7 separate regions of the Homo sapiens genome follow, and regions 1, 2, 3, 4, 5 and 6 are each linked to region 7. The links come from fine-mapping of genetic effects on gene expression. A gene starts in region 7. Each other region holds a variant in brackets. All regions are shown on one strand. Distances are from middle to middle.

Region 1 (4,000 bases), 110 kb after region 7:
TTGATGGGAATGGACAGGACTGAGAGAGCAGCAAGAAAAGGTTGTGTGGAAAGTCTAGGCTAAGCACAGGGTGGACACAACAGGTGGCTGTGAAGAGGCAAGGCTGGGTAAGTTGTGCTTGGACAGTGTGGGGTTTCAAGTGCCAGGGCTCCAAGGCTTACGCTGCTAGCTATGGCCCAGCAGAAGGTACCAGGCTGACCCGCCCTCTGAGAACAACTATGCAAGCTGGATAAAATACCAAAAAGAAACAAGCAAGCAAAGAGAGCAAATGGTTTGAAGGCATTCCAGAAGGATCCAAATAGCCAGGATTGGAGAGTACTGACAAATGCTCTGAGCTGGCTTCCCTGCAGCCTCTGGCCTCAGAGCATTTCCTTATTCATATGCAAGGCACACTGGGCCACATAGAAAGGCATAAACTAGACTCCGCAGCAGTCTCATCCGGAACAAACACTGGACATTAATGGTATCAAAGCAGACTTTCTACGGGCCAAGATTCCATAGAAACAGGAACTCAACGTTCTGCTTGCAATCTTCCCTCCCGGCATTTGCTAATTCCTAAGCTGCACAGGTGTGACTGGGGACTGAGAAACCAAACGGAAAGAAGCTGCTAAAGGGGAAAAAGCCAAGCAGAGATTTTGCTAGAACAAAATGTGGATTTCAGGGCCTGCCAGGGAACAGGAGCCTTAATAGACCCATCTCCAACACACTCCCAAACTTTCAACTGAAGGTCCTAAAAAAAGCTAAGCCCTAGGAGTAAGGGAAACCGGAAATAGACCACCTCAACTGAATAAAGGTGATGTGCCCATACACGATCTACTTGCCAGAAAAACACTAAAATTTCCTCTGGAGGAAGATAACATACTCAGAACCCATATATTTTTCCTTCTTTCTTTCTTTTTTCCAGACAGAGTTTTGCTGTTACCCAGGCTGGAGTGCAATGGCACAATCTCGGCTCACTGCAACCTCCGCCTCCCGGGTTCAAGCCATTCTCCTCCCTCAGCCTCCCGAGTAGCTGGGATTACAGGTGTGCGCCACCACGCCTCGCTAATTTTTGTATTTTTAGTAGAGACAGGGTTTCACCATGTTGGCCAGGCTGGTCTTGAACTCCTGACGTTAGATGATCCACCCGCCTTGGCCTCCCAAAGTGCTGGGATTACAGGCGTGAGCCACAGCACCTGACCTCCGTATATTTTTTCATACACAATACTCATCATTGAATTAAAAAAAAAAAAAAAAAAAAAACTACAGGCATACCAGGAAAGAGAAACAGATGACTGAAAGCCAAGAGGAAAAAGAAGACAACAGAACAGATGCCAAGGGATTCAGCTATTTCAATAATGGGGCATGGCCATTAAAACAGGCTAAAAGATGGAAACCCAGACCAAAGAGCTGGAATCTATACAGAAAAGAATGAGACGGAAATCTTAGAACCAAAAAAATACAGTAACTCAAATTAGAATTTTAATAGATTTAAAAGCCAACTAGACAAATAAGATCTTACGTGGAGTGGAAAGTAGGCATATTTTCCATATCCAGATTAAAGTACAGAGAAAAAAATAAGATTAGAAAATTACTAAGACATAGGTCACAGAAAACAAAAACAAAAACACCCATACATGGGAGCCCCAGAAATA[G/C]AGAAAAACTGAGAAGATGCACTATTTAAAGAGATATTGGCCAATGTTGTAAAACAGATGAAAAACATCAATTAAAGAAGCTTTACAAGCACCAAACAGGATAAAAAAAAAAATCATGCTTAGCCACATTGATCTAAAATTGCTAAAAACCAAAGACAAAGAAAATCTTAAGCCCGAAGAAAAAGACATATTATATTCACAAACATAAGATTAACACCTGACTAATAAGGCCAAAACTTCACACCTGACAAGATACTATGGCCCTAGAAGACAACAGAATGATATAAAGTTTGAAAGAAAATAAATTCTAATATCTAATTATATACTCACCAAATATACTCTTAAAAAATAAAAAACATAGTGAAATAAAGATGTCTTCAGTCAAACAAATATGGAGATTTTACTGCCAGCGATACCAAAAGAAGTACCAAAAGGAGCTACTTAACTGAAAGAAAATAATCGCAGATGGAAATGTGAAAATGAAGAGCACTGAAAAGGGTAAATATGTGTCTAACACTAAAGGAATGTTGACTATACGTGACAAATAAGACAATAAAATACTATGGTAGATTGAGATCCAAATAGATCAGTAATCACATTAAAAGTTCATGGACTTGCCAGGCGCGGTGGCTCACACCTGTAATTCCAGCACTTTGGGAGGCCAAAGCGGGCAGATCATGAGGTCAGGAGTTCAAGACCAGACTGGCCAACATGGTGAAACCCCGTCTCTACTAAAAATACAAAAAAATTGGCCGGGCGCAGTGGCTCACGCCTGTAATCCCAGCATTTTAGGAGGCCGAGGCAGGTGGATCACGAGGTCAGGAGATCAAGACCATCCTGGCTAACGTGGTAAAACCCCGTCTCTACTAAAAATACAAAAAACTAGCTGGGCGTGGTGGCGGGCGCCTGTAGTCCCAGCTACTCGGGAGGCTGAGGCAGGAGAATGGCATGAACCCAGGAGGTGGAACTTGCAGTGAGCCGAGACCGCACCACTGCACTCCAGCCTGGGCGACAGAGCGAGACTCCGTCTCAAAAAAAAAAACAAAAAACAAAAAACAAAAAATTAGCTGGGTGTGGTGGCGGGCATCTGTAATCCCAGCTACTCAGGAGGCTGAGGCAGGAGAATCGCTTGAATCAGGAGGCGGAGGTTGCAGTGAGCTGAGATAGTGCCACTGCACTCCAGCCTGGGTGACAGAGCGAGGCTCCGTCTCAAAAAAAAAAAAAAAAAGTTCATGGACTAAATACTCCAATTAAAAGACAAACATTGGCCAGGCATAGTGGCTCACACCTATAATCCCAGCACTTTGGCAGGCCAGGACCGGCAGATCACTTGAGGCCAGGAGTTCAAGACCAGCCTGGCCAACATGGTGAAACCCTTGTCTCTACTAAAAATACAAAAATTAGCCAGGCGTGGTGGTGCACGTCTGTAATCCCACCTACTTGGGACGCTGAGGCATGAGAATCACTTGAAGCCAGGAGGCAGAAATTGCAGTGAGCTGAGATCTCGCCACTGCACTCCAGCCTGGGCGACAGAGTGAGACTCTGTCTCAAAAAAAAAATAACAATAATAAATAATAACAATAGACAACAATTGTCAAGATGGATTAAAAATATCTAGCTCTATGCTATTTACAAGAAGAATACCTTAAACGTAAGGTCATTTAAAGATTGGAAGCAGAAAGACAGAAAAAACTTACCCTGCAGGCCGGGTGCGGTGGTTCACACCTGTAATCCCAGCACTGTGGGAGGCCGAGGTGGGCAGATCACCTGAGGTCAGGAGTTCGAGACCAGCCTGGCCAACGTGGTGAAACCCCACCTCTACTAAAAATACAAAAATTAGCTGAGCATGGTGGCGAGCACCTCTAGTCCCAGCTACTTGGGAGGCTGAGGCACGAGAATTGCTTGAACCCGGGAGGCAGAGGTTCCAGTGAGCCAAGATGGCACCATTGCACTCCAGCCTGGGCGACAAGAGCAAAACTCCATCTCAAAAAAAAAAAAAAAAAAAACCTTAACCTGCAAACGTTAACCAAAAAAGTTACTATTGTACTAGGATTCATCAAAGTAAACTTTTTTTTAATTTTTAATTTTGTTTTAAAGATGAGGGGCTCTCACTATGCTGCCCAGGCTGATCTCAAACTCCTAGGCTCAAGAGATCCTCTCACCCTAGTCTCACAAACGGCTGGGATTACAGGCGTGAGCCACCACACCCGGCCAATATCAAAATAGATTTTAAGGCAAGAAGTTTAATTAAAATTAAAAGGAATATTTCATAATAAAAAAAAGTCAACTAAATCAGGAAGATACAGTAGTCCTAAATTTGTTGCCACCCAATATATATAGAAACATAGAATAAAAGGGGAAAAATT
Region 2 (4,545 bases), 43 kb after region 7:
GGGCATGGCAGCAGCACCCCAGGCTTGAGCCTCGTGTTGTATTGATTAAGGTTGCATTTATTGGAGATCTCAGAGTCTCTCTTGGTGCAGCGATGCTTAGAATTTGCCCAAGGCAGCATGGGAGAGTCACTCACTGTCTGCAGACCTTATGACTCCTCCTTCCCACCTGCCCAGATGTTCCAGGTCCTAACTGGATCCTTAGCTCTTGGGGAGCCCCCTGTGCCGCGGCTGTAGCCCCGCCTTGGCAGACACCCATCACAGTTCAGCTAAGGTGATCGTATTGAGGGAGGGGAGCCCTGGCCCCGGGGTAAGGGGGTCTGGGTTCCGGTCTCAGCGCTGCTGGGAGACTAGGGGCTCGGAAGCTTATTTCTCTGACTTTAAGTCTCTTGCAAAATGAGAATAAGAAAACTCTGCCCTGCCTCCTCTTGTTGTGAGAAACAAATAGAATGATGAACATGAAGATTCTTGTAAAACGTCCTCAAAGTGTTATTATTAGTTACTAATTTGCCTTCAATGGAAGCAAAGAAAAAGTCATGAAAGGGGTATTTTGTGCCAAGCCCTGTGTGAGGTATGTGCAGTCTTTCAGTCTTTTTTTTTTTTTTTTTTTTTTTTGAGACAGAGTCTCGCTCTGTCGCCCAGGCTGCAGTGCAGTGGCGCAATCTCGGCTCACTGCAAGCTCCGCCTCCCGGGTTCATGCCGTTCTCCTGCCTCAGCCTCCTGCCCACCACGCCTGGCTAACTTTTTGCATTTTTTTTTAGTAGAGACGGGATTTCACCATGTTAGCCAGGATGGTCTCGATTTCCTGACCTTGTGATCTGCCCACATCGGCCTCCCAAAGTGCTGGGATTACAGGCATGAGCCACCGCGCCCGGCCCAGTCTTTCAGTCTTACTGGAACAGCCTGTGGGGTTACTGCAAGGGTGAGGAGCCATGTCAGAGAGGCAGGCGACTTGCTCCAGGGCACACAGCCTGCGGGCAGCCGTGTGCAGGTCTATGTGACTGCGAGGCCTGACCTCTTCCCGCCCCTCCATCTGCCAGTTGTTGCCTATGGCTTTCTATGTGCCAGTCCCGGGTGCTGGGGAGCCAGCAGGGAAACAACCCGTGTCCCGGCTGCATGGAGTTTGCTTTCCAGGCGACGAGGCGAAGGAGTGAGGACAGAGAAGGGCAAGTGCAGAACATTCTGTGCTGGGCCTCAAAGCAGGACTGGAGAATGAGTAGGGGTGGGCAGGGAAGGCCTCTGAGGGGTAGGGACATTTCATAGGGACTTAAGGAGCCACTGCAGCAGCCTCTACAGGCGTCTGCAGCGAGAGTGGCCCCAGAAGTGGGACCCATCTGTGCTGAGTGGCGGCCTCACAGGCTCTGGCTGGGCCTCCTTGGGTGGGAGAAGGCTGGTTGCCTTTGGAGGGGCCACCTCCCCTCCTCCTTCCTGCCCCATGGCTGCTAGGAGACTTTTTCCTAAAGCATCTGAGTAAGTTTTAATGACGAGTTTCCCGTGCGGCTGGCCTCCAGCCGCAGAACGTCATAGGTCTCTGTGGGCGACACGGACACTGCACCCTGAGCAGCTTTCTCTTGCTCAGCTTCTTCTCCACAGTTCCAGAGTGTTCTGGAACCTTCAGGCTGGAATGAGCTTATAGGAAGAGATTGGTTTGGGCAAGAGAGCCACCAAACCGCCTCCAGTGGGGTGACTTCCACTCGACAGTCCCACTTAGAGCAGCCCCATTTCCCTACGGGTTGTTAGCAAACGTGAAGGATCTTGCGATGCGTAAACTTCCAGGAGGGAGGATTTTGTAAAGGAATGTTCTCATGGTTGCGTTCTGAGCCGGGATATTAGAAACACTTTATCAGGCTGTCATGGGTTAGATGACACTTTAGTCCAAGTGTTTATCCATTTGGGAGATGCATTTTATTATTCTAAAAATGTTGTATATTTTAAAAAAGCAGAACAATTCTTTTGAAATAAGTTATTTCCAGGAAAACTTTAGGATTAAGAAACTTGTAAAAAGATCTATAAATAGAGACCCCAGGGGCTGTGGACCTCTGTCACCACAGAGCCTGATCGTGCTGTGCAGTCTAAAGGGGACCACGGGGCAAGAAGAGGTGACTTTGGTGGTGTCCAGAGCAGGCTTCTCAACCTCATGGGTTTGGTGAGTCACCCCAGGACCCGGGACTGGGCAGTGCAGTCAGCTCCCAGGTACAGCTGTTGCCCTTGGGCCCAGAAGTAAGGCTTCGAGCGCCAGCTGTCTCGCCCCAGGCCAAGGAGCCTCTTCCCTCTCTGTCTGGTGGTCAGATGGTGCCTGTGTGTGTGCAGAACACTTTGAGCGGGAGCCCTGGGAATAAGTTGCTCTTCATGATTCCAGAGAGGGAGGAGTCTCCTGTGTGCCACTCACCCAGTGTGGTGTCTGAGCTCGTCTTCGTGTTTCAGAGAGACCCCCATCTTTCTTTAATGCTCACGTCTTCGTGAAGCCATCCTCAGCATCACCCTGATTGGATGTGATCTCCCCAACTGTTCACACCTCTCCTCCTGCCTGTTGGTCTGCTCTGTCTGATGTTCTAGATCACTCCCAAAATGTACCCTGTCCGCTGTCCTCAGGGGAGCGACCGAGCCTTGTTCCTCTTTGTTCTTCAGGCGGGGGTGGACTGGGGTAGGTAGGGGATGCTCACTGGAAGGCTAGAAGCAGCAAAGCTGGGTCCCAGGAAGGATCTAGGGCCAGAAGGTCATGTTTACTGATGGCTTCTGCTCAGCTCGCCTGCTGACCAGAGGCTGAAG[G/C]GGGGAGGGGTGGGTGGTGAGTCTGTGAGTGTAGAGTCGTAACCCACATCTGTGCCACCCAACAGCGTGAGGCTTCCTGGGCACCTAGGGCTGGATGGGGCCAGGATGGGCTGAGGACACAGATGTGAGGACAGTGCCCACCTTCCCGCACACAGTGGCAGGGCCATGTGTGGGGGACATGGGGGAGGAGGAGGGGCTGCCTTGGGTGCAGCAGTACAAGTGATGGAGCAGATGGGAGGTCTCTGCAGGGCTCCCAGGTGGACAGGAGCCTGCCAAGTGGGCCAGGTTGGGTAGAATGGGATGAGGGGTTTGCAAAGTGGTGGGTGTGGGGAAGGGCCACCCTGGAGGGAGAAGAGTTCTAAAAAGGAAGGTCACTTCTCACTCGTACCTTGGAGTGGGAACACCGGAAAATTAATCCCAGATCAGCAGAGCTCAAGGCCTGGTGCAGAGAAACCCATGTGTCATGGTGACGTGAAAGACCTATTTCAGATTCTCGCTAGGGTTCAAGTTTTCCCCAGAGGCAGAATTTTTTCCTGGGTCTTCAGTTCTTCACCTGTAATGAGAGGCGATCCTGATGGATGCATTTTAGAGGAACGGCAGCTGCCCTGCTTACCCAGCATCAAGTTCTTCCTGCGGCCACACCTGCCTGGCCCTGGGGACAGGGACGATGTCACGCCACCGTCCCTCCTAGGGCCAGCTCAGGGCCCTGCTCATGCTGAAAGAGTGAAACTTACTTTTTACAGACATATTTTGAGGGGCACATTCATTTTGCTAAGTGAGATACACATTTATGAATATGAAACAGGAAATTTCTGAATCTTATTAGCTTAGAGATAATGGCCACCACTGTGTATGGAAGCTGTGGAAATGATAATGGCCACCACTGTGTATGGAGGCTGTGGAAAATCTGCAAGTATTGTTTCAGATTTAAAATGCGTGCAGCTCACACCTAAGTGCTATAGGGCTAGTATCTTCGTGACTATCTAAATTTCAGTTTTAAAAATCTCTAGGCCAGGTATGGTGGCTCATGCCTGTAGTCCCATTGTTTTGGGCAACTGAGGCAGGAGGATCACCTGAGCCCAGGAGTTCAAGACTAGCCTGGGCAATATAGCAAGACCCCATCTCTACAAAGAATAAAATTAGCTGGGACAAGTGATGTGCACCTGTCATCCCAGCTACTCAAGAGGCTGAGGTGGGAGGTTCGCTTGAGCTCAGGAGTTTGAGGCTGTGGTGAGCCCTGAATGTGCCACTGCAGTGCAGCCTGGGCAACAGAGTGAGACCCTGTCTCTATCTGCACCACCGCCCCCCTCCCAAAAAGAAGTCCACACTCCTTTCTGGGAAAAGATGGGGTTGTGAAATATGTAAATAAGTTGAGGAGTGCTTTAGGGAGGGGTTTTGAACCATAGAATAATGAGATTTGAATGCTGGAGGAGATCTCACCCTCTAGTTTTAACACCTTGTTTAATTTAATCTCAATTCCTTCTGTAAAACCAGAGTGACATCACCTGCCTCAGCACTGGTTGTAAAGTTAGAGGAGATGAGGCTGATAAAGTGCGTGCTTGTGTCTAGGACTTAATGTTGTGATGCTGAGGTGAGGATACAGGTGAGGAAACTGAGGCCGGGAGGGGGACTCCCCACCCAGGCTGCACGTCAGTGTTGCCTGGGAGCACTGCTGCCACCCTCGCCTCCCGTCGCTGCGTGAGCACCCCAGGGTGCTGCCACCTTCCCAGGTGACCCTGTCGGGAGCCTCTCCCACCACAAGCGCAGCTCCTGCGGCTC
Region 3 (4,545 bases), 71 kb after region 7:
TCCAATCCATCTCTCTGACCTGCTAAATCCGGGGTTTACACGGCAGGGAAGAAATGGAACAACGCGCGAGACAATAGGAATGAGGGGTCCTGAGTCTCATTGTCTGGATGTGGTGACCTGGTTGGTGAGTTTCAGTTATTCAGTACTTCATTTGAGAGGCCTGAAGGTCCTTTGCTGAGGAAGGAACTCAGATAAGTAGAAGTTTTAAGCCTTAAGAGCAGAAGGATCCATTTCTATGTTTATTTAAAAGAACAGTCTATGGGACTTTTGGAAAGGTTTTAACCGATGCCCCTGGGCACTGGGGGGACCTTCACATCTGTAGCAGAACAACATTAAAGCAGATGAGAGAACTGGGGTGGGAAAAGCACAAAAACTCACCCATTCCAGGGGTCTCAGAGCCCTGGGTTCAGGGTCTACCGCTAACCCTTTGGGATGTGTAACAGACAACTTCATCTCTCTGTGCCTAGGCTTTGTCACCTGCAAACTTGAGACAATATTGCACATAAATAATACCGGGTTGATGCAGAAGTTTTAGCAAAGGAGAGGGATGATTTTGACTGGGTGGATGGTGTCTGTCACCTGGTGGGTGCTGGGTTCATGAGAGCTACAGAGCGAAGCCAGCCCAGGGTGACCGTTCTGTCTTTGGCTTCCTAGGAGGACCACTGCCTTCCCCCACCCCCATTTTGGCTGTGTGTCTCCTTGGTTCGTGCCTGGCCATAGGTTCCCCCTCCTCAGGTTATGTCCAAGCTGACTAGGAAGTCTGGAGCCAAGCCCAAAGGCCTTGAGGGATGTTCCCTTTCTAAGAAAACTGTGGTCCTTCCAGAGAAGCCGAGGTCAGGGATAGGATCACAGCTGGAGGCAACAGGAAGTTCCATGTTTATTTCCAGTTTAAAAAGTATTTTTAAAAAGAACAACCACCAGCACCCTATAGCAACTTTGAAAAACGTTTCAGGTTTTCCCTAATTCGGTCGTCCAAGTTAAATGAGCCTTTTCTCTTTGCATATAGCCTTCTGCCTTTATTTCTATGCACACATAGATCCCAGCGTCAGCTTCACAGAACACAATTTTGTCCCGCTCTTCTCTCTCTGTACTTTATTGCAATGATAAACAATACTGTTGTTTCATTATGGTCATTCTTAAGGTTGTAGAATCTTCCATCCAGAGGATGTGTCATTTTAATTAGCCATTTGCTGGGTATTTGGGCGACTTACAGTTTTTTCCACAAGGGTTAAGTCAAGTTGCAATGCAGATCACCTTCTACGTATATCTTTTTACTTCTGTTGGATTTGGGGGGATAAATTCTCAGAAGAGCTATTAATGGGTCAAAGGTTTGGAACATTCTTGTGACTCTTGAAACGTATAGCAACTGCTATCTTTGGAAGAGCAGGCTCTGCTTCCACGCTGGGGAGACCAAGCCACATTGATCATCCCTGGGGCCCTGAGCAATCCTAGGCTGCTATGGGTGGCCTCTCTCCCCTGCACTCCTGTCCCCCACTGTGGGACCCATTTGCCAGTTCACCTGGATCCCAGCCTCCTTCCTTCCCCCAGGAACACAAATGAAGGGGTGTCGGAGTCTTTAGCCAGGGCTCTGGAATGGTAATCAGGGATCTTCTGTGTGTGTATGAGCATTTTTCTAGAAGGTCCGTAGCTAGCATCACGCACTCATGAAAGGGGCCAGGATCCAGGAAAGGGTTTAGAACCTCTGAACTCTAAGGGCAAACAAGGCCAGCACCAATCGAGAGGCACCAACAAAGTGGGTGTTAGTGAGGAGGGAGGAACAGACACCCCTGGGCAGGGGCCAGGGGCTCTCTGGAGAGGTGACATGTGAGGTGGGTGTCGAAGGTGTGGGGAGGGAGGAATGTTCCACAGAGAGTGACACCAGAAGCAGAGGACAGGGAGGGGTACCGAGAAGAGGAAACAGTCCAGCTCATCTACCCTAAGGGGCCACAAGGAGAGCAGTGGGGGACAGGACTAGAAAGACAGGTCAGTGCCACCACTGAGGGTGCTGGGCAATGGTGTCGCACAGCTTAGAGGACATCCAGATACCGTGCCAAAGGTGGACTGAATGAGAGGAGCCGGCCGGCACCTGGGAGACACATTCAGAGGCGGTTGCCAGAGGCCCTGAGGCTTGGGGGGTGGCAGGGGGAGGGCCCCTCCCTCCGTGGGCCTTCGTCTCCCAGACCCCCCTCCTCCTTTCCCCTCTGTCAGGTTCCGTGTGTCCTTTCTTCTGCACGCACTGACGTCTTGTTTAAAACTCGTCTTGTTACCAGAATGACTCCAGGTAGACTGTTGGCCTGCTTCACTTTTTGAGCCTGACTATAAGGTTTCCACAAACCACACAGGGAATTGGCAGCCTGAATTTATAAGCATAGCTCCTTTCTTGTTATTTAAGTTTGATTTTCTGCTTTCAGAACATATTTGTGCTCTTAGCAAAGGTTATGGAAATATATAAGGGAAAAAAATGGAAATTCCCCCTGTCCCACCCCCAGAGAGAAGCTCACGGCCGCTTCACTCATGTGGCCCTTCCGAGGCTCCTGTTTTGGGCTCCAGGGCTGCCCTGGTTTTGTGCCTCTGCCGCTACTTTTGTTCTGTATTGGTAGACAGTCTCCGAGACCCCAGCCATACCGGGAGGAGGCTCAGCAGTGTCTGGAGGGAGAACCAGTACTGTGGTCAGGGGCATGGAGCTCCCACAGGACTGGATTGGACTCTCAGGTCCCCAAGGTTCCAAGAGAGCCTGAAGAG[G/T]CTTTTCTGAAGGGACAGAACTCTGAGGTAGACCCAGGAGGGCAGGAAAGGCCTGTGTGGGCTGTGGCTGCAGGAGCCACTGCATGTAGGCTGGGAGGGAGGCCAGCACGGTGCTGTGACGTTCTTAAACCTCACGTTCCACGTCCCTCCCTGCCCACACACCTGACCACGCCTCCCCATGCTCCTCACACATCTGCGCCCTCCTCACCCAAGCAGCACCCTGAATGCACACGTGGCGGGGGGGGCTGAGACTCAAATGGAAGGCAGGGCCCTTCCTTGTATCCCTTTGTTGTCCCACCTGCAGTAAGCAGAGCTCAGGAGACCAGGCTGAGTGACCCAGAGGGTTTGTGCTGACCCTGGCACATCTCACTGGAACTCAACCTAAAAACTTCTGGCCAACTTCAAAGCCCAGAGGAACATTAAGCCCTGTCTTTTTGAGCCACCTGCTGTCTCCACACCCTCAGTCACTCAGTCATACTTTCTATCATGTGACTGTAGGAAAAGCTGGACTATGGTGAGCGCTTCCTGTGGGCCAGGCACTGTTCTAAGTGCTTGCCGGCAATGAATTGTGTCCTTCCTGCTTTCCTGCCTAGGAAACCAAGGCACAGGGAGGTTTAGTATCCTGCCTTATGCCGAGACCAGCTCGGCTGGGGAGACCCTAACCCAGTGGTGCTAGAGAAATTAAAGACACGCACACAGAAATATAGAGGTGTGAAGTGGGAAATCAGGGGTCTCACAGCCTTCAGAGCTGAGAGCCCCGAACAGAGATTTACCCACATATTTATTAACAGCAAACCAGTCATTAGCATTGTTTCTATAGATATTAAATTAACTAAAAGTATCCGTTATGGGAAACGAAGGGATGGGCCGAATTAAAGGAATAGGTTGGGCTAGTTAACTGCAGCAGGAGCATGTCCTTAAGGCACAGATTGCTCATGCTATTGTTTGTGGCTTAAGAATGCCGTTAAGGGGTTTTCCACCCTGGGCAGGCCAGGTGTTCCTTGTCCTCATTTCTGTAAACCCACAACCTTCCAGCATGGGCGTTATGGCCATCATGAACATGTCACAGTGCTGCAGAGATTTTGTTTATGGCCAGTTTTGGGGCCAGTTTATGGCCAGATTTTGGGGGGCTTGTTCCCAACACCTTATAGCCACAGTGAGTGCAGGCAGGGCTGGGGGCTGAGCCAGGCCAGCACTCATGATCCTGACGGCTGCCTCCTCCTGCCCCGCGAGCCTCAAGCACACCAGGGCCGCACACTCCAGTGCGGGCTGGGATCCCCGGGATTACTGACCAGAGAAACCCAGCCCCAGCCCAGTGGGTGCTGCCTCCCACCTGCCTCCTCCAGACTCCTCAGCTCTGCCTGCCCCTCAGGACTCCCAGCAGCTGTCTGCCTTGAGAGGCTGCCCTCAAGAGCTGGTGGGGCCCCATCTCTGGCTTTTCTTGAAAACCTTCCTAGAGGCTCATCTTTTCTGCAAACCCAGAGCTTTTTCCACAATGTCTGGTTAGTTAGGTTCCGAGACGGGTCCTGTCCCACCCAGCACTTCACCCATTTCTTTGCATTGGGCATCCTCTCACCACACTTGACTGGCAGAGAGAGGGGAGTTGCCAAGCACCAAGGCTGCCTAAGTTGCTATCCCTGGGCTGCAGGGCCCTGGGAGAACTGGATGCCACTTCCCAGGCTTCGGTGGAGCCAGGGCAGGGCGTACTGGGATTACTTTGCCTTCTCATTCCTGAGCTGTAGTGCCATGCTTGAGGTTAACAGTGAAGAGATATTGCTGTGGAAATGGAAGAATAAGAGTGTC
Region 4 (4,545 bases), 36 kb after region 7:
GCCCTTTGCAAGGTCCGGGTGGAGGTGAGGCGTGTTTGCTAAACATGATGTAGCGCAAGGAGGCTCAGGTGGGCTCGATGGAGGAGGCGGGGTTCAGCTAGATTTCGAGGGGGAGGCGGAAGGCGGCCAGGTGGGGAGGGGCATTCTAAGTGCGTGCTTCCCACATTGGGGGTGCAGGGTTGTGTTTGCTTTGGCGCATGTGAAGCCACAGGATGACCGTGGAGTTGGCATTTCCTTTCATCCTGTGTCCTCCATGTATTCATTCCTTCACCCAGCAGACAGCGTGCTGGGTGCTACTGAGTGCTGGGAACACAGTGGGGACTGGGACAGATGTCGTCCCTGCCCTAGTGGCACTTACACTGAAACAGGTGGAGACATCTGTTTGGCAAATATTTTTAAACACTTAAAAATACAAATACAAACATGGATTTTATTGAACAGAATGCAGAATCCACATATATTAGCAAGTAAAATGAGAAGCTTCCTCCCCAGGCACTTTCGTGGGGAAGTTTAAGAGCTCTCAAAATAGGGGCTACAGCATGTGCCGAGGTCAGGAGGCCAGTTGGTGACATGCTGAGGACGTCAGCTTGGCTAAAGCAGATGGTTTACCTCAGGCAGCTGTGGGGGCGGGGTTTAGATTCAAGTTCATGGTAAAGCCCAGAGTATATAGGACCCTGAATGCCAGAATGAAGATTTTGAACTCTTGGACAATTGGCAGCTATTGAGGTGTTTTGAGCAGAAGGTGGTACTTGCAAAAATATTATTTTGGAAGATTAATGTGTTCCAGGGTGGATTGGCAGGACCAGGGAGATGAGTCTGTCCCCAGCCCTGTGGGAAGTAAGGGTGTGAGCCAGGTGGTGGCAGCAAGAGTGAGGAAAAAGGAGACCCAGAGGCTTTTACCTGGAAAGACCAGCTGGGATGAAGGACCTGCTGGAGGCACAGAAAGGAGCTCAGTGAGAGAGAGCAGGCTGGCGCTGGTTCAGGCGTTCAGCCAATGTTACTGAGGACCTGCGCCGTGTTGGGTGCTGTGTTCCTAGCTGGGGCGTAGTGTTGGCAGAAGTGAGACCTGTGGATCAGGGCTGGTTAGGGGAGACCATGACAAGCTTGGGTGTTCACATTGACTTTAGCGTTTTCCACTCCTGGTCCCGCCATAAGGTCTCCTGGAAACTTTTCAGCAATACCAGTGTCTGGGCCTCTGGTTCCACTTTTGTGGACTCTGCCTGGGCATAACTCCCCAGGTGATTCTAAGGCACAGCCAAAGTTGGGATCTGCTGAGTGAGGGTGAAGTGAGCACCTGCAGGTGGTGCTCATCAAGACAGTGGAGGCTGAGGAACTGGAATTTAGGAGAGGTGATAGTTCACCAGGGCCTTGAACTTGAATTTTGGAATTTGGAAGTCTCTGTCATGTGACTAAGAGAGTGCATTGAGAGGCCTGGTCCATGACCTGCCATGGTCCTTCCAGACCAGAGTCTCTCAGGACAAGAAGAAGGAAAATTGGAAAGGACTTTAAATCTGAATTGAAAACCAGGGAACTGAATTAAACGCAGGAGACATGAAGCAGCATCAACAGGTGGAAAGCACCGCCGTGGGTGGAGCTTTGAATGTGTGGGAGACATGCTGGTCAGAAGGGAAAAAAGATGGTAAAAGGGTACCTAACTCAGGGTGAGGGTGAACCAGGGATCAGAAGACTGTTAGAAAATGAGGGCTGGGCGCTGTGGCTCACACCTGTAATCCCAGCACTTTGGGAGGCCAAGGCGGGCAGATCACTTGAGGTCAGGAGTTCAAGACCAGCCAGGCCAACGTGGCAAAACCCTGTCTCTACTAAAAATACAAAAATTAGCCGGGCGTGGTGGCGGGCACCTGTAAATCCCAGATACTCGGGAGGCTGAGGCAGAAGAATCGCTTGAACCTGGGAGGCGGAGGTTGCAGTGAGCTGAGATTGCACCACTGCACTTCAGCCTGGGTGACAGAGTGAGACTCCGTCTCAAAAAAAAAAAAAAAAAAAAAAGATTATTAGAAAATAAAGACAATAAATGCATAGAAGAAAAATAGGGGATAGGCATAGGAAGATGGCCTAAGGCAGCAGCATGAGAGTTTGGTTTAAAGACCCAGGAAGGCTGGAAGCTCTTTGCCTTGTTTT[C/T]ATATCTACTACTCCACCTTGAACAGTGATTCTGTAGAAGAGAATCACCTGGAGGAGGGCACAGATGCAGATGCCGGGGATTCTGTGGGCTAGGACCCTGGAATCTCCCATTTTAACCAGCTCCCTTTGGGACGCTGGTGCACCTGGCCCAGAAACACTGAACTGGAAAAACAGCAACTCAGGAACAACGCCAGAAGGGTTGCATCAGAACCAGTGACTGGAAAAAAAAAATGCTGAATGTCCCTGGGAAGGCTGTGAGAGGCTGTAGGGAAGAGGGAATTGCTGAGAAACCCCTAGAAGGACTAAAGGGGAGAAAAAAGATGTATCAAATCCCCAGGAGAAAGCTGTGATTCAGGAGAGCAGATGATGTGGGTTTTTGTTGCAGACGGTGTGCAAAAAGTTTTACTCTCAAAATGTCATTTTCTGAATTGAAAGGTAGGAAGTTTTGGAATCCAAAGAGTTTGCTGTGTTCCATGGCCACAAACACAAGAGAATAAGGGCTTGGTGTTTCTGTGTCATCAGTGATCTGTTCCCTTCAAGTTTTTACATTTTAAGTTTGTGTGATGATCTATCTGGATTCCTAAATATCTTCTGTCTCCAGATTATACACTTGTCTTCCTCCGAGCTGGTACATTTGCTTTCAAGTTCATCTAAAGTTAGTTTCAGAAAGTCAGGTGATCTGTGTGATAAATGTACCCAGTGTTGCTTATAGGTAAGAAAGCATGAGCAAAAGCATGGAGCCCTTTCATTCCTGCCTCACTTAGTATTGGCCGTCAGTTAGAAATTGGTTTCAATTTTCTTTATCGTCCAGAATCTATATGCTTAAATATATGTGAAAGCTCTGTGTTTTCAGAACATGTGAAAACTCCAACTGAGTGTGGCCAGCCCAAGCTTTCCTTCCTCATGGGGGCCTTTGCTGACTTCTCCCCTCTCCCTCAGAATCGAGCTGCACATCCTCTGTTCACTGCTAGCTTCTTTTTTTTATTTTTTTTGAGACAGAGTCTCTCTGTGTCGCCCAGGCTGGAGGGCAGTGGTGAGATCTCAGCTCACTGCAACCTCCGACTCCCGGGTTCAAGCGATTCTTCTGCCTCAGCTTCCCAAGTAGCTGGGACTACAGGTGCCCGCCACCATGCCCAGCTAATTTTTATATTTTTAGTAGAGACGGGGTTTCACTATATTGGCCAGGCTAGTCTTGAACTCCTGACCTCGTGATCTGCCCGCCTCTGCCTCCCAAAGTGTTGGGATTACAGGCTTGAGCCACCGCGCCTGGCCCTTTTTTTGAGACAGGGTCTCACTCCATCATCCAGGCTGGAGTGCAGTGGTGTGATCTCGGCTCACTGCAACCTCTGCCTCCCGGGCTCAAGCAGTTCTTGTGCCTCAGCCTCCCAAATAACTTGGGACTACAGGCATGTGCCACCATATACCCAGCTAATTTTTGTATTTTTAGTAGAGACGGGGTTTCACCAAGTTGCCCAGGCTGGTCTCGAACTCCTGACCTCAGGCGATCCACCCGCCTCGGCCTCCCAAAGTGCTGGAATTACAGGCATGAGCCACGGTGCCCGGCCACTGCTAGCTTCTTTACTGCCAGTAGAGTCAGCTCCTTGAGGTAATTTTATAATCTCCAGGGCCCAGTATGGGGTCCGCCACTCACCAGAGTATTCAATAGAGTTGAACTGACCACTTTGTAAAAAGACATGAGACCAAACATGATTCGGCTTTAAAACGGACTTCTTTAAATAGAATTGGAATTATTTGGCCTAGAGAAAGAGACCAAGGTGACTAAATAATGAGGTCACATCAATAAGAGAAGACAGGAAATGCTGTGAGCAGATGTTTGTGTGTCTAGTGAAGCAGCAAGAGCAGTGGGAGCTTTTGAGGAGTTTTGTGGTTCTCAGTCATCTGGAGTAACAGATCCTTAGGAGAATCTGACAAGAGCAATGGACTTGCTTCCCAGAGACGGGCCAAGTGTGATTTCTGCCCTACTTTAAGGGCTCACCAACTCCTCCAAAGCCTAGTCCAAGTGAGTAATCCCTGGGTTAGGATAAGATGCTACATTTGAGCTGTCCATTCTTGCATGGAAATGGGGAGGTTGACCAGATGGCCTTCTCTGGTTTTGACCATCTACACCCCTGAAACGTGGGCCTTCTGGGTGGGTGCATTGATCAGGCTGTTGTGTCTTTATGTTCAGTAAGTATCAGGAGCATTCTCCTCTTAGCCCACAAACTCTACAATTGACATAAAAATAAATCTACTTGTTCACACCATTGCTTCAGAGTTCATTATTCTCTGGTAGAAAAGGTCAAGAAAAAGTTCATTGTGAACACTCAGGAATCAAAAAGGAAGAAGGCGTTGTTCCAGGCCAGGGTTTCTTGACGTTGGCTCCGTTGACATTTGGGGCTGGATGGT
Region 5 (4,545 bases), 38 kb before region 7:
TTTTCATTATGGCAAATGAGCATCAGCTCATATAGCCCGTAACAGCTCTGTCAGCCCGTAACAAGAGAGTCAGCCTGTCCTTTGAAGCTTTTGAAGCCAGGCATCGACTTTTCCTCTCTAGCCTTGAAAGTCCTAGATATCATCTTCTTCCATTAGATCTATCTATTCCAAGCCTGTTTCATCTGCATTGAAAATCTGTTGCTTTGATTAGCCACCTTCATCAATGATCTTAGCTAGATATTTTGAATAACTTGCAGCACTACATCAGCATGTGCTGCTTCATGTTGCCCTTTTATGTTACGAAGATGGCTTCTTTCCCTAAACCTCATGAACCAACAACTGCTAGCTTCTGACTTTTCCTCTGCAGCTTCCTCATCTCTCTCAGCCTTCATGGAAATGAAGAGAGTTAGAGACTTGCTGTGCATTAGGTTTTGGCTTAAGAGAAGGTTGTGGCTGGTTTGGACTTCTATCCAGACCACTAACGCTTTCTCCATATCAGCAATATGCTGTCTCACTTTCTTAGCATTCATGTGTTCACTAGATTAGCATTTTTAATTTCATTCAAGAAGTTTTCCTTTGCATTCATAACTTGGCTAGCTGTTTGGTACAAAAGGCCCAGCTTTTGGCCTATCTGTTTTTGAAATGCCTTCCTCACTAAGCTTAATCATTTAAAGGTTTTGATTTAAAATGAGAGATACATGACTCTTCCTTTTACTTGAACACTTAGAGGCCGTTGTATTGTTATTAATTGGCCTACTTTCAATATTGTTTTGTCTCAGGGAAGAGGAAGGCTCCAGGAGTGGGAGAGAGATGGGGCAACAGCCATTTGGTGGAACAGTCAGAATATAGACAACATTTATTAAGTTTGCTGTCTTAAATGACCTTATATGTTCATGGTATCCCAAAACACTTAAAATAGTAACAGATATCACTGATCACAGATGATCGTAACAGACATAATAATGATGAAAAGTTTGAAGTATTATAAGTGTTACCAAAATGTGACACACACATAAAGTGAACACACACTGTGGAAAAATGGCATCAATAGACTTGCTTGACTTAGGGTTGCCACAGATCTTCACTTTGTAAAAAAACACAATATGTACATACTGTGCAATAAAGTGAGGTGTGCCTATGTGCCTTACATAGGTGCAATAAAGTGAGGTGTGCCTGCATCTGCTAGGCCCTGTGGGTGACACAAGGGAGGATACATGAAGATGATGCATGTCTTCACATTTCTTCTAGTGTAGGAGGGAAGACAGCTGGATATGCTACTAACTGTAAAACTGGGCAGGAAGTGATGGCACTATGAAAGTACAAAACAGTATGGTACTCCAGGGGACATAGAGATTACATTCTGTTTTGCAGGAGTAGGGGGCTGGATGGTGAGGAATGGAACAGAGAAAGCTGCATGAAAGATACAGCATTATAGCCAGGGCTTGAACAATTAAAGATAAAGAGGTATCTGTTTCCAGATGGAGTTAGGAAGGCTTGGGCAAGTTTGGGGAATGAGAGATTCCCCAGTTTGAAGGTCAGGAGCTAGTGGGAGGATAAGACTGGGAAGGTTGGTGGAGGACTGATCAGAAACTTTTAACATCATTTGAGAAAGTTGGAACTTTGGAGAATAGTTTAAGAAGGAAGAAGTTGAGGGGTTTCCTGTGTGCATATTGAATTTGAGATTCCAACAGGACATTCAGCTGGAAGAATGTTGTGCTAATTAGAAATGCAGGTCTGGAACCTCAGAGGAGAGGGCTCATCTTGGAGATTCTCACAGTTGAAACTGTACAAGTGGTTGATGTTGCTGATTTGGGAGGAAGGATTCAAAACGAAAGGAAGAAGGCATAGGACAGGATTTGGGGGATTTTGGTGGTAAGCTGGAGTGGGAGCAATAGAGAGAAGGGGAGTTGGTGAAAGAGAATTTAAGAGCCTAGGGAATGTGATGTATGGGAGCCAAGGCAGTGAGAGTTTTAGAAAAGAAGAGAGAGCCCGTCGTTAACTGCTGTAGAAGGGCCAAGGACCATGAGTACTGAGGGAAAGGACTGGTGGGCTTCATCATCTTCAGTTCTTTCTGATTTTGTTGGTTTTAACTTTAGGGGATAGCTTCTTAGGTTTCTGTAAACAAATAGGAGCACTTAATATCCTTGGTCCAGATATCTGCCTATGCCCAGAAACCCTACCCGATGTGTATAACATGTTTTCATTTCTTACTACATAGCTTGTGTGGGTCTGAGTACATTTGGGAATTTTGTGAAAAGAACATATAATATATGGGCTCTGTCAGGATTCTTTCTGGAACTTTGTCCCGGAAACCCCATGTGTCAATGCTGCTCCTTAACTTCTCTCTGGCCCTAATGTTTGAGTATGCCCATATTTCATGCTGCCTCTTCCCACATTTGGAATGAAGCCCAGAGAATGAATGCAAGGAAG[G/A]AAGGGGAAGGTGTTAAATAGACATTGTTTTTCAGGCACCATGCTAAGTACTTTGCCTGCATTATCTCATTTAACCATCATAATAACCCTGTGAAGTAAGTAGTATTATCCCCATTTTACAGATGAGGAAACTGAGACGCAGAGAGGTTAAGTGACTTGCCCAAGATCACAAAACTAGTAAGTAAGTGTGAACCCAGATCTGTCTGACTCCAGAGCCTGTGCTCTTTTCCATTGTATCACACTGAGGCTCTGAGTTTGGAGTTCTAAAGTTGGTGTGCAGACCCGAGAGTCAGGGAAGCTCTGCCTAGCACCCTGGGGGAAGCCAGCTTTGGGATGTGATTTATAAATGGCTGTACCCATTGCTGACACTTATGTCATTTTGGCCTTAAGTTCTTTTGAATTGCTCACTCACCTTCCTAATTCTTCCTAAGAAGAACTTTATATAATTGATGTTCTTTTAAGGTCTACTATAATTAAAGACTGATTGCCTCTAGGGAGTGGAACTGGAGGTGGGACGGGGTGGGGCAGGAGGCTGTTGTTTTCCATTGTAAGTCCTTCTATGCTAATACATTTTTAGAATGACATTACTTTGATTCTATAAAAAACCCTCTAATGACCAGTAGAAACAGATACAATAGCAAACACTAAGAATACACAAAAGAACACACTTTGCCAGGTTAATGACTGTGAGATACATTCTTATAACATCACAAAAACTACGTTTTGTGTATCTGTCCTTTTATTTGAAGGTTCGAAATGAGTTTTACAAGGACACACAGGGTGTGATACTGGTCTATGATGTTGGGCAGAAAGACTCCTTTGACGCCCTTGATGCGTGGCTGGCAGAAATGAAGCAAGAGCTTGGACCTCATGGAAACATGGAAAATATTATATTTGTAGTTTGTGCCAACAAGGTAACCCCTCTGGAAATGGTGTGTTCAGATTTCTAGGGAAAGAGTGGAGCTTTGAGTGTTGGGAAACAAAAAGAAAAGAAAAATTCCTTATTGTGTAATATGGAAATCAATAACCTTTCAAAACATAATGTCCCTAAGACAAAAACAAAACAACACAGCAGCCTAAAACCTGCTATATCAAAATTTGTATACATTTTTTTTTTTCTGGTGCCATACATGGGGAAGGATGTTGGTGACTGAGTGGGAGCAATGGTTCCTAATAATCAGACTCTGACCCGACTGGAGTAGGGGCATTAATTAGGTGATGTGGACTATGGAAAGGTGTGAAAAGCAGACTATGGCCCCAAGGGTATGGCAGATGTCATGAAGCCAACTTTCACAGAACTGAGTAACAGCTGTTTTCCCAAGGGATCAGGTGGGACATTGCAGCAGCAGGCACTAGTCCTGTTGCCATAGAATATCAGTCTACATTCAATATTAAGTTTTGTTTCTGTCCCTTTGGTCCTGGTAATTTTACACACTAGTGCAGGCATTTACTAAGAATAGCTTTGCCTTAGTAAAGGATTGACAGAGACCCTCACTGGGTCCATTCTAGTAGGACAAGATTGTAATCTTCTCTCTGTCCCCCGCCCCTTCTATTTCAGATTGATTGTACCAAACATCGCTGTGTAGATGAAAGTGAAGGACGTCTTTGGGCTGAAAGCAAAGGGTTCCTGTACTTTGAAACTTCAGCACAAACTGGAGAAGGCATTAATGAGATGTTCCAGGTAAGCTAGCATTTTGTTGTTTTAAGGTTTGTGTCAAGGCCACTGTGCCAATTTTCAGTTTAAATTATAGGAAGCAAAAAAGTAATAGGAATTTCTCATTAGAATAAGCTCTTTCTTTTCAAAGAATCTAGTGAGATAGAAATAGAGAAAGGGGGAGAGAAAGGAAGAGAGAATGAGAATGAGTGATCTGACTGCTGTCTATTTTAGATGAGACTTAGCTGATCACCAGAATTACCTGAGGAAATTCTTAAAATACATACTTCTAGGCTTCAGACCTACTGGAAGCTTATGTTGCGATGGAGCCCAGGAATCTATATTTTGAAAAAGCTCTCTCTCCAGGCGATTCTGAAGATCATCAAGTTTAACAAAAGTTATTATACACTGCTTAAGCAGGACAGAGATTTTCTTCAAAGCTACCTTTGGCTAATGGTATT
Region 6 (4,545 bases), 61 kb after region 7:
GGGGCTGACGTTGGGAGTGGCGTGGGCTCTGGGCTGATTTGACGTTTCAGAAACATCAGCTGACGGGTCTTCGGAGCTGAGTGCAGGCCGGTACTAGAGGCTGCATGACCCCGTTTCACTTTCCTCCTGTAAAAGCTCCTCATGAGAATAAAAATGAGATAATAGATGGAAAAACACTTTGGAAAGGGCCGCAGACAGTCCTGGTATGAGAGGAAACAGAACCTGGTTTGGAAGTGGCTCCAAAGAGCCATTTGAGGTCAGTGTCAGAGCAGGCCATCCCTTACTTACATGTGTGCTTAATGTCTTTTTTAAGAAAATTCTCCATTTAAAAAAATTATGAGTGTCTCCTATAAAAACAATCGTTAATCTACCCTCTGCAAAAAAGGGGCCTCCTTCCAGAATTGAGTGCCCAGGGTCCATGTCTCACTTTTTATTTGGTCAGGTGCTCTTATCTTTTTTTTTTTTTTTTTTTGAGATGGAGTCTCACTCTTTCGCCCAGGCTGGAGTGCAGTGGCACGATCTTGGCTCACTACAACCTCCACCTCCCAGGTTCAAGCGATTCTCCTGCCTGAGCCTCCCGTGTAGCTGGGACTACAGGTGCCCACCACCACACACAGCTAATTTTTGTATTTCTAGTACAGACGGGGTTTCACCATGTTGGCCAAGCTGGTCTCAAACTCCTGATCTCAAGTGATCTGCCTGCCTTGGCCTCCCAAAGTGCTGGGATTGCAGTCGTGAGCCCCATGCTCGGCTATTTATCTTGTTTTCTAAGCTGCCTTAAGAGTGTGCGGCTGAAGGGCAGCCCTGGCCATGTGGCTGTCCCAGCAGGTGTCTCCTCGCTGGGCCTCAGCTTCCTCCTCTGCTGTGAAGTGAGGTGTAGGGATGCGCTGGTGACCTGAGCCCGCTCTCTCTCTTGCCATCCCCTGGGAAGTTGTACCTTCTGTTATGAAGATGACCAGCCTCCTAATGACAGTCAACTCCCAGATGGGTGGGCAGCCAGCCATGGTCCAGGAGGGTGAGGCGGCACAGTCCCTCAAGCACAGGCATCCCTTTCTGCCTCCTCACTGGGGTGAGCATGTCCACATGTCAAAGGGTGCATTGAGGCAACAGAGCATTTGGGTAATGGCAAGGGTCTCAGATTCCAGTGGCTTTGCTGCTTTAACCTCCCTGGCTCCAGTCTCCTTCAGGGAGGTAGTGGAGCCTGCCCTGCCCTGAGGCCTTGTGGATTTGGAGCTCTTGGTGCAGCCCTGGCATGCGAAGCGTCCTCTTTGCCTCTGCCGAACACATATCTGGCTTCGCAGGCAGTGCCATGGCGCTTCCCTGTGGTGCGGGGCCGCCAGGGTGCATGCTGACCTTGGTCCAGCCTCCCGGCTCTGTGGGCATGTGAGGGTAGAGCAGGAGGCCCAGAGGACAGAACTGGAGTTGTTTGTCTTTATTCCCATGTGACCACACTTCAGGGGTTAGTTGGGGACCTTGAGGGTTGCTAAGCACCCCAGCCGCCACCTGGCAACAGGCGGCACCCAGAAAACCCACTCAGCACACACCTGCTGCCAGGTGGAGCTACAAAACTGAGCCTCTCTGAATCATACTCAGAATCACTTCCCAGGGATCGGAACATGGTTGACGGAGGATGTGGGAAGATGGAGGGATGACAGGGGCAGGCCTATGCTTCCTTCACACGCGTCCTGTGTGGTTAACTGGCCCTGTGCCTGGTCCTCCCTCGGAGGTGAGGACTGTCCACAGTGCCCACCCTCAGACAGGAGGATGCTGCAGCCAGGGCACGTAGAGGGAGAGCCCAGGGCAGACTGCACAGGGTCTAGGGTAGAAAGCCATCCCCATCTTCACCCTTGGGATCCTGGGGAGACAGCTGAGGTGGACGCTGGGTGGGTTTCCATTCAGGTCTTGGGGGACTGCACAGAGACACAGCTGCCTCTCCCCACCTCTCCTTCTGCTTTAACCCACGTGCAGGGTCACCTGTTACTAGGGATGGTGTTTTTCCTTCATGCCGGTCTTACAGGGAAGAACCGCCCATTGACCACAAGCGTCAGGCCCCTCTCCTGGGAGCCCCGGAGCTTGGGACACTGGGAGGCTGCCATTTCCTAAGCTTGGATTGTATCTCTTGCTTTTCTGAATGTTCTTCCTCTGTAACCTTTGCCCAAGCCTGGTCACTGTTTCCCCCAAGACCTTTTGCTATTAGGACAAGGTGTCATCAACCCTGAGCCCTGTTCTTATAGGCGCTTGGTAGGGGAGAGGGGAGTCAGAGCCAGAGGCCAGTTGCCTCTTGGCCTGGGGTTGGGCTTCTAGTGCCAAGCCCCACC[A/G]TGCCACTGTTATCCTGGCAACAGTGAGGTCGGGGCAGGGGGACCACTAAGAGTGGGAAGAGGAGACGAAGCTGGTGTCGAGTGGGAGGGCTGTGCCTCTGCCTGTGGATCCATAGCTGCTCTGCGTCTTGCTCGTTGCACCGTGGCTGCATCATGGCATTCTCCGCGTCTAATGTAATGGGTCAAATCCATTGTCTGCTTCACAGGAGACACACAGACACGTCCCCACCCCCAGCATCAGCCTTGCATTGTACTCGCTATCTTCTTCACAGAACCACCCACAAAGATATCTAATATTTTTAGTTTTTCTTTTAGCCTCGAATGCCTCTCAGTGTGAGAAAAGCCAGGTGCGTTCCCCATAATGCGAAGTAGGCACTGGTCCTTCTGTTGGTTCCAACTCTCACCTCTTGGATGTCACAGAATGCTCTTCATTTCAACATTCCAGGACTTAGCAAAACAAATCCACATTTCAGATAATGCAGATGATGAACCCATAGAAAACAGGTTGTCCTAAAGCAGTGGTGGGTTCCTGGTGGCAGTGGGAGGATGTTGGCTGTGTCAGGGTGGACCTGAGCAGAGCTGGTGAGGACAGTCCTGCTGACGGCCCATGCATGGGCTGTGTGGCCTCTGAGCTGGGCTCTGCTGGGCTGTGGCAGGTCTTAAGCCTTTGCCACATCCTCCAGCAGAATTTTTCTCCAAACAGTTGTAGAATTGCTGGAGAACTGTAGAGTTGTAGAATTGTAGAATTGTGCATTGTGGCCAGGGTTGTGGCGCATTTTATATTTATCTGGCTGTAAGAATGAAGTTTTGTTAGTAATGAGTGTAGTTTTATTGAACATTTATTTTGTGCCAGGCCCTGGATGGTGTTTTCATTGGATTATTTCATTTAATAATGAGATCTCTCATTTACCAGCTGGCACTTCCTCCTGGCTCTATTTGGGAGATCTGTTAATTAACAGGAAGAATCAGTTAGGTAGTCCTTGGACCACAGCTGGCCTGTGGGTATCTGTTTTGTTTGACCTTCCCAGAGTGTTAACATTTTCTAATACTTAAACATTTGTACATTCTGGATAAAAACCTGGATTTTTGACTCACTTAGAAAATGGAAAGATCTGTCAACAAAGGTTGCAAGTAAGACTTGCATTCACATTCTAACTGGGTCACTGAGCCCCTCTTGAGCCCAGGAGTCCAACACCAGACATGGCAAGACCTTATCTCTACAAAAAAACTTAAAAAAAATCCAGGCATGGTGGTGGTGCGCACCTGTAGTCCCAGCTACTTGGGAGGCTGAGGCGGGAGGATCACCTGAGCCCAGCAAGATCAGTGTGCAGTGAGCTGTGACTACACTTCAGCACTCCAGCCTGGGAGACAGCGGGACCCTGTCTCTTTAAAAAAAAAAAAAAAAAAAAAAAATTCAGACCACAAGTATTTCAGGACTTTTCTAGGCACTGGGGATACAGTTGTGAGCAGAACAGATTCTAGTGTGGGCAACACACATTAAACAGACGAGTATGTGCTATGTCAGGAGCTGGGAAGGGCTGTGGAGAGAAAGCAGAGGACGGAGCTTAGGGAGTGCCGTGGGTAAAGGTGGAAATTTTGTCGGTATAATTTTCTTGGGCCTTTATGCCCAGGGTGGTACTGAGTTGCTGCATCTGGGTCAAGGAGAGAATGCAAAGGGTCTGCTTTCCGCCAGTCACAGATACGAACCCTCCGCATCCTTCTCAACACAGGGCTCGAGGCAGCTGCTCTCTGCCCATCAGAGTTGGCACAGTACTTGTGACTACAGTGTTCTAGAGCTGCAATAGGTAGCAGTATGGTAGCCACTTGTCATATGTAGCTATTTAAATTAAACTTAATTAATTAGAAAATGTTAGTCTTTCAGTAGCACTAGCCACATTTCATGTGCTCAGTAGCTAAATGTGGCTGCCATATTGGACAGCAAAGATACAGAACATTTCTGTGATTGCAGGAAGTTCTATTAGCGCTGTTCTAGAGGATGGTGGCTTGCCCCTTGGGCCAGGTCTCCTAGTTGACAGCTCGTTAACTCTTCAAACCTCTAAGGAGTAGTACCTGCTCTTTGCCAAATAATTCGTGGTGAGGGCTCCAGGTACCACACACGTGGCCATCTTTGGGCCCAGTGGGCTGTCTCCTGAGACTGCAGTCACCTTGGCCTACACGGTGGCCCCTGTCTCTGGGGACTGCACAGGAGACCAGGCCAGTGACCAGA
Region 7 (4,545 bases):
ACCCACAGAGGGTGCAACATGGTGTCTCTTGTGCCAAAGCAGGACCAAGCACAAGATTTATCAGCCTTTTAAAAAACATTAGCACATCTCTCCCCCAACCCCCACTTTTTTTTGAGATAGGGTCTCATTCTGTTGCCCAGGCTGGAGTGCAGTGGTACGATCTTGGCTCACTGCAACCTCTGCCTCCTAGGGTCAGGCGATTCTCCCACCTCAGTCTCCTGAGCAGCTGGGACTTCAGGCACCCGCCACCACGCTCGGCTAATTTTTGTATTTTTTGGTAGAGACAGGGTTTTGCCATGTCAGCCAGGCTGGTCTCGAACTCCTGACCTCAAGTGATCTGCCTGCCTCGGCCTCCCAAAGAGCTGGGATTACAGGCATGAGCCACTGCGCCTTGCCGTACATTACATCTCCCTTTGTAAAACATAAAAGTCATGTCCTCTTTAACATCATGTGACAATTCAAAATAAATGTTTAAACCTCCAGCAAAGTCCAGGCATGATGGCTCACACCTGTATTCCCAACACTTTGGGAGGCTGAGGCAGGCAGATCACTTGAGGTCAGGAGTTCGAGACCAACCTGGCCAACATGATGAAACCCTGTCTCTACTAAAAATACAAAATTTAGCCAGGCATGGTGGCAGGTGCCTATAATCCCAGCTACTTGGGAGGCTGAGGCAGGAGAACTGCTTGAACCCAGGAGGCGGAGGTTGCAGTGAGCTGAGATGGCCACTGCACTCCAGCCTGGGCGACAGAGTGAGACTCTGTCTCATAAATAAATAAATAAATGCCTTCCTTTTTAAAAAACAAAAACAAAAAACAAACCACAAATAACTCCCTCCAAAAAAAATCCCCCCCAAAACCCAAAAACCTCCAGCAAATTAAAACAATGGGGCAGCCCAGAGCAGTGGCTCATCCCTGTAATCCCAGCACTTTGGGAGGCTGAGGTGGGCGGATCACTTGAGGTCAGGAGTTCAAGACCAGCCTAGCCAACATAGTGAAACCCCATCTACTAAAAATACAAAAATTACCCCGGGCTTGGTGGTGTGTGCCTGCAATCCCAGGTATTCAGGAGGCTGAGGCAGGAGAATTGCGTGAACCTGGGTGGTGGAGGTTGCAGTGAGCTGAGATCACAACACTGCACTCCAGCCTGGGTGACAGAGTGAGACTCAGTCTCGAAAAAATAAAAAATAGAAATAAAATAAAACAATGGGGCAAAGTTTTGCTTTATTTAAATTACCAAACTCCTATATCTGATGTTAGGTCCCCTACCTTTGGAATCAAAGCCCTGCGAAGTATGGGCTGAAGGTGGCGCCTTTTCAGACAGAGTGTGAGGGAACGGTAGAAACAGCAGTGGCAGGATCGATTCTCTAATGGATCCATTCCCCGAGGGATGCAAGGTGATGCCTGAGGTTCTGGAAGGGGTGCCCGCGGATAACTCTCAGGGGCATGGGGTGGCAGCTCCATCCAGGGTCTGGATAGCCAAGTTTCTCTCCCCTCTGTTCATTCCTTCAGCTCTCCCCAGGGGAGATGACCCCCTATTGCTGCTGGCTGTCCTCAGCACTTACCTTCCCACACATGCTTTTGTCCCTTTTGTCCCAAAACATTCTATCTCTTTCCTCTTCCTTTATTTAAATTCCCAAAGCCTGTAGTTGATCTTAGCACGGTGTTCTGTCAAATGCAAGGAAAATAATTTATACTATGGTGTAAGAGACTGATAGGTTTAACTATTCAAAGGAGCATTCGCATCTTTAAGGGACAGTTTGTGAACTCAAACACATCTCAAACGGGTAGAATGTGCACGGGAAATCTCTTCGAAGCAGGGTCTCAGGAACTCTTCCAGTTCCACGTGTGTAGTGCCCACCGGGCCACCGCCACCCGCCTCCTGGGAGCAGGACAGGGCTCCGCTGCCGAGCCCCTCTGCGGAAAGCTCAGGCCCGGCGCTCCGGAGTCTGGGCTCCCGGGGTGGGCGGGGATACTTAGGCCCCACGTGCCCCGCGGCGGAGCGGTCCCCAAACCTGAGCCCTGGCCTCTGCCGGCCCGGAAGGAAGCCGCGGCGGAGGAGGGGGCGGCGGGGTGCCCCGAGCGCGCCTCACCTGCGGGCGGGCGCGTCCCGGGCTTCCATCCTCCTAGACCGGGCCTCCTCGCTGGAAGGGGTGGATTCGCCCCAGCCCTGCCGCCCACCGCCCACCGCCCACGCCCGCGCCCGCGCCCGCGCTTCCACGCAGCCATCGCCCCAGCCCGCCGCCCGCGCCGGATCGGGGGCCGCCCGGGCCCCTCCACCTCTCGCCCGCGCGGGTCCTGGGACCGCCGCCCGGCGCCTCCCTCGCCGCCCCACTCCGGAACGCGCCGCCGAGAGGGCGGAGACTGGGGCGAGGGAGGGGCCGCCCCGCCCGCCTCCCGCCTCCCGCCTCCCGCCTCCCGGGGCCTGGAGCGCGCGTGGCCCCGGAGCCGCCGGCGCCGCGCGGGGAATAGCTGTGCAGCACGCCGAGCCCGGACTCGGCTGGCTCGGCTCGGCGCGGGCGGGCGAGAGGATGCTGGCGGGCTTCCCCGGGCTCGGCCCGCGCTCCCGCCGGGGAGGGCCCCGCGCGCGCCCCTAGCAGCCGCCGCCGCCGCGGGTGCAGGGGAGGGGTCCGGAGAGCCGCGCTCGCCGCCGCCCGCGCCTGCCGGCCCCCGCACGGCCCCTGCCCCTGAGCCTCAGCCCCAGGGCGGGCGCGCTGGGCCGGCGCCCACGGATCTCCCAGCCCTCGTCGCCGCCTCCTCCTTCCCCCTGCGGCCGGGCGCCCGCGGATGCTGAGGGGCAGCCCTGCGCCTCTCCCGGTCGGATCCCGGGCCTGACGGCGGGAGATCGCGCTCCGGCCGGGCCCCGAGGCGCTGCCGGGGCGGCGCGGCTCTGCGGGGAGCAGCCCTCGGGCGCGCCGAGCTCTCCCGCCCCAGCCCGCGCGGGGACCGTCCCGGAGCACGCGGTGGCCGAGTTCCCGCACAGGTAAACGCAGGGGCAGGGCCAGGCTTCCGGGGGGGAAGACAGCGCCCCGAGCGTGGGAAGGGGGCCGGATCGGAGCCCGAGCCTCCAAGGGTTTGGTGGAAAAAGGAAGTAAACAGAAGGAAGGCTCAGGAATCCCCCACGATGGTCCTGATTTCTTTCCGGCACATTTTATTTACAGCTTCTAAGGACTGGGCCTGGAGGGAATTTAGGTGAGGAAGTCGGGGACTGAGAAAGAAGAGATGACAGAGAGAAACCGGTTACCAGGGATGGAAAGGCGGCTAGGCCCTTCCACAAGCCAGGGACAGGAAATTGAGTGTCTGGCGTGGACAGGACTAAGTGTGCCTGCGGTGGGCGGTGGTGTGAGCCGGGGGTGGCAGGGAAGGCCCTGGGTTGGGAGGCTCTTGCAGCAGAGATCCTTTTATGAGGGTTAGGGCGGGTCATGGGGAAACCGCAAGGTAGGAGGGAAGAGGTGCTTCTACTCAGCAATGCCCTTTTCAGTTCTAGCTGATCAGTGCTACCTGTGCTCTGGAAACCCGCTCTGCGTTCCTGCTGGAGGTGGCCTCCCCTCCGCCCCAGACAAGAAGAGGCCCTCAGCCCTCCCCCGGTCTCAGAGAGCCCTGAGAGGAGGCCCAGTCCAGAGCTCTTCCTCCGTTCCCAGTCCACTTCTCTAGGGCCAGTAGCAGACACCAGCCAGTATGCCGAGGAACCAGGGCTTCTCCGAGCCCGAATACTCGGCCGAGTACTCAGCCGAGTACTCCGTCAGCCTGCCCTCCGACCCTGACCGCGGGGTGGGCCGGACCCATGAAATCTCGGTCCGGAACTCGGGCTCCTGCCTGTGCCTGCCTCGCTTCATGCGGCTGACTTTCGTGCCGGAGTCCTTGGAGAACCTCTACCAGACCTACTTCAAAAGGCAGCGCCACGAGACCCTGCTGGTGCTGGTGGTCTTTGCAGCCCTCTTTGACTGCTACGTGGTGGTCATGTGTGCTGTGGTCTTCTCCAGCGACAAGCTGGCTTCCCTCGCCGTGGCTGGAATTGGACTGGTGTTGGACATCATCCTCTTCGTGCTCTGCAAAAAGGGGCTGCTCCCGGACCGGGTCACCCGCAGAGTGCTGCCCTACGTGCTGTGGCTGCTCATAACCGCCCAGATCTTCTCCTACCTGGGCCTGAACTTCGCGCGTGCCCACGCGGCTAGTGACACGGTGGGCTGGCAGGTCTTCTTTGTCTTCTCCTTCTTCATCACGCTGCCCCTCAGCCTCAGCCCCATCGTGATCATCTCCGTGGTCTCCTGTGTGGTGCACACGTTGGTCCTGGGGGTCACCGTGGCCCAGCAGCAGCAGGAGGAGCTCAAGGGGATGCAGCTGCTGCGGGAGGTGAGTCCTGCCCACTGTCCCCCCACAGCGTCCTCTCCTGCAGCTCTCACCAACTTGGGACCTGTTGGAGTTGCTGTTTGCTTTGCCTTTGAGTCAAAATGTGTCCTGGGGGCCTCCGGGGCTCTCACCTCTCTCCCTAGTCCCTGCCTTTTCACCCCTGTGCCATTACCCGGAGTCTGCCTGTGCTTGGCCC

Which allele goes with the higher level. Positions count from the first base shown, and alleles are read on the strand shown. Sizes are in standard deviations (SD) of each study's normalised expression. Not every link is listed here.
In carriers of allele C in region 2, the expression in visceral fat of the gene that starts at base 2,428 in region 7 tends to be higher than with G alone (small effect, 0.24 SD a copy in GTEx).
In carriers of allele A in region 6, the expression in monocytes of the gene that starts at base 2,428 in region 7 tends to be lower than with G alone (large effect, 0.82 SD a copy in CEDAR).

Evidence for each region. PIP is the estimated chance that this variant, and not a neighbour inherited with it, causes the effect.
Region 1: its variant is the best candidate, but not a certain one, in a credible set for the expression of ADCY3 in blood mononuclear cells (TOPMed, PIP 0.69).
Region 2: its variant is the best candidate, but not a certain one, in a credible set for the expression of ADCY3 in visceral fat (GTEx, PIP 0.53).
Region 3: its variant is the best candidate, but not a certain one, in a credible set for the expression of ADCY3 in spinal cord (GTEx, PIP 0.55).
Region 4: its variant is the best candidate, but not a certain one, in a credible set for the expression of ADCY3 in whole blood (INTERVAL, PIP 0.75).
Region 5: its variant is the best candidate, but not a certain one, in a credible set for the expression of ADCY3 in whole blood (INTERVAL, PIP 0.50).
Region 6: its variant is the best candidate, but not a certain one, in a credible set for the expression of ADCY3 in monocytes (CEDAR, PIP 0.77).

The regions. Positions count from the first base shown.
Region 1 is chr2:24,810,145-24,814,144 of GRCh38, reverse strand. All of the region lies in intron 3 of CENPO (centromere protein O), which reads right to left. Among named protein-coding and RNA genes, the nearest start is that of CENPO, 19 kb to the right of the region's middle. The variant G/C (reference allele first, on the strand shown) is at 1,635.
Region 2 is chr2:24,875,520-24,880,064 of GRCh38, reverse strand. The region is part of intron 2 of ADCY3 (adenylate cyclase 3); the gene reads left to right. Among named protein-coding and RNA genes, the nearest start is that of ADCY3, 42 kb to the left of the region's middle. The variant G/C (reference allele first, on the strand shown) is at 2,767.
Region 3 is chr2:24,847,400-24,851,944 of GRCh38, reverse strand. All of the region lies in intron 3 of ADCY3 (adenylate cyclase 3), which reads left to right. Among named protein-coding and RNA genes, the nearest start is that of CENPO, 56 kb to the right of the region's middle. The variant G/T (reference allele first, on the strand shown) is at 2,743.
Region 4 is chr2:24,881,934-24,886,478 of GRCh38, reverse strand. All of the region lies in intron 2 of ADCY3 (adenylate cyclase 3), which reads left to right. Among named protein-coding and RNA genes, the nearest start is that of ADCY3, 36 kb to the left of the region's middle. The variant C/T (reference allele first, on the strand shown) is at 2,140.
Region 5 is chr2:24,956,609-24,961,153 of GRCh38, reverse strand. It overlaps DNAJC27 (DnaJ heat shock protein family (Hsp40) member C27), which reads left to right. Exons shown (of 7, transcript NM_016544.3): 4 at 3,180-3,344; 5 at 3,989-4,111. Among named protein-coding and RNA genes, the nearest start is that of DNAJC27, 13 kb to the left of the region's middle. RefSeq lists an enhancer at 2,843-3,797. The variant G/A (reference allele first, on the strand shown) is at 2,431.
Region 6 is chr2:24,857,178-24,861,722 of GRCh38, reverse strand. All of the region lies in intron 3 of ADCY3 (adenylate cyclase 3), which reads left to right. Among named protein-coding and RNA genes, the nearest start is that of ADCY3, 61 kb to the left of the region's middle. The variant A/G (reference allele first, on the strand shown) is at 2,319.
Region 7 is chr2:24,918,120-24,922,664 of GRCh38, reverse strand. ADCY3 (adenylate cyclase 3) reads left to right here and starts at 2,428. Exons shown (of 22, transcript NM_004036.5): 1 at 2,428-2,982; 2 at 3,481-4,352. The coding sequence starts at 3,678. It overlaps LOC124907742 (a long non-coding RNA gene), which reads right to left and starts at 2,321. Exons shown (of 2, transcript XR_007086246.1): 1 at 2,093-2,321; 2 at 1,207-1,667. RefSeq lists silencers at 1,874-1,963, 1,974-2,183, 2,224-2,283, 2,314-3,043.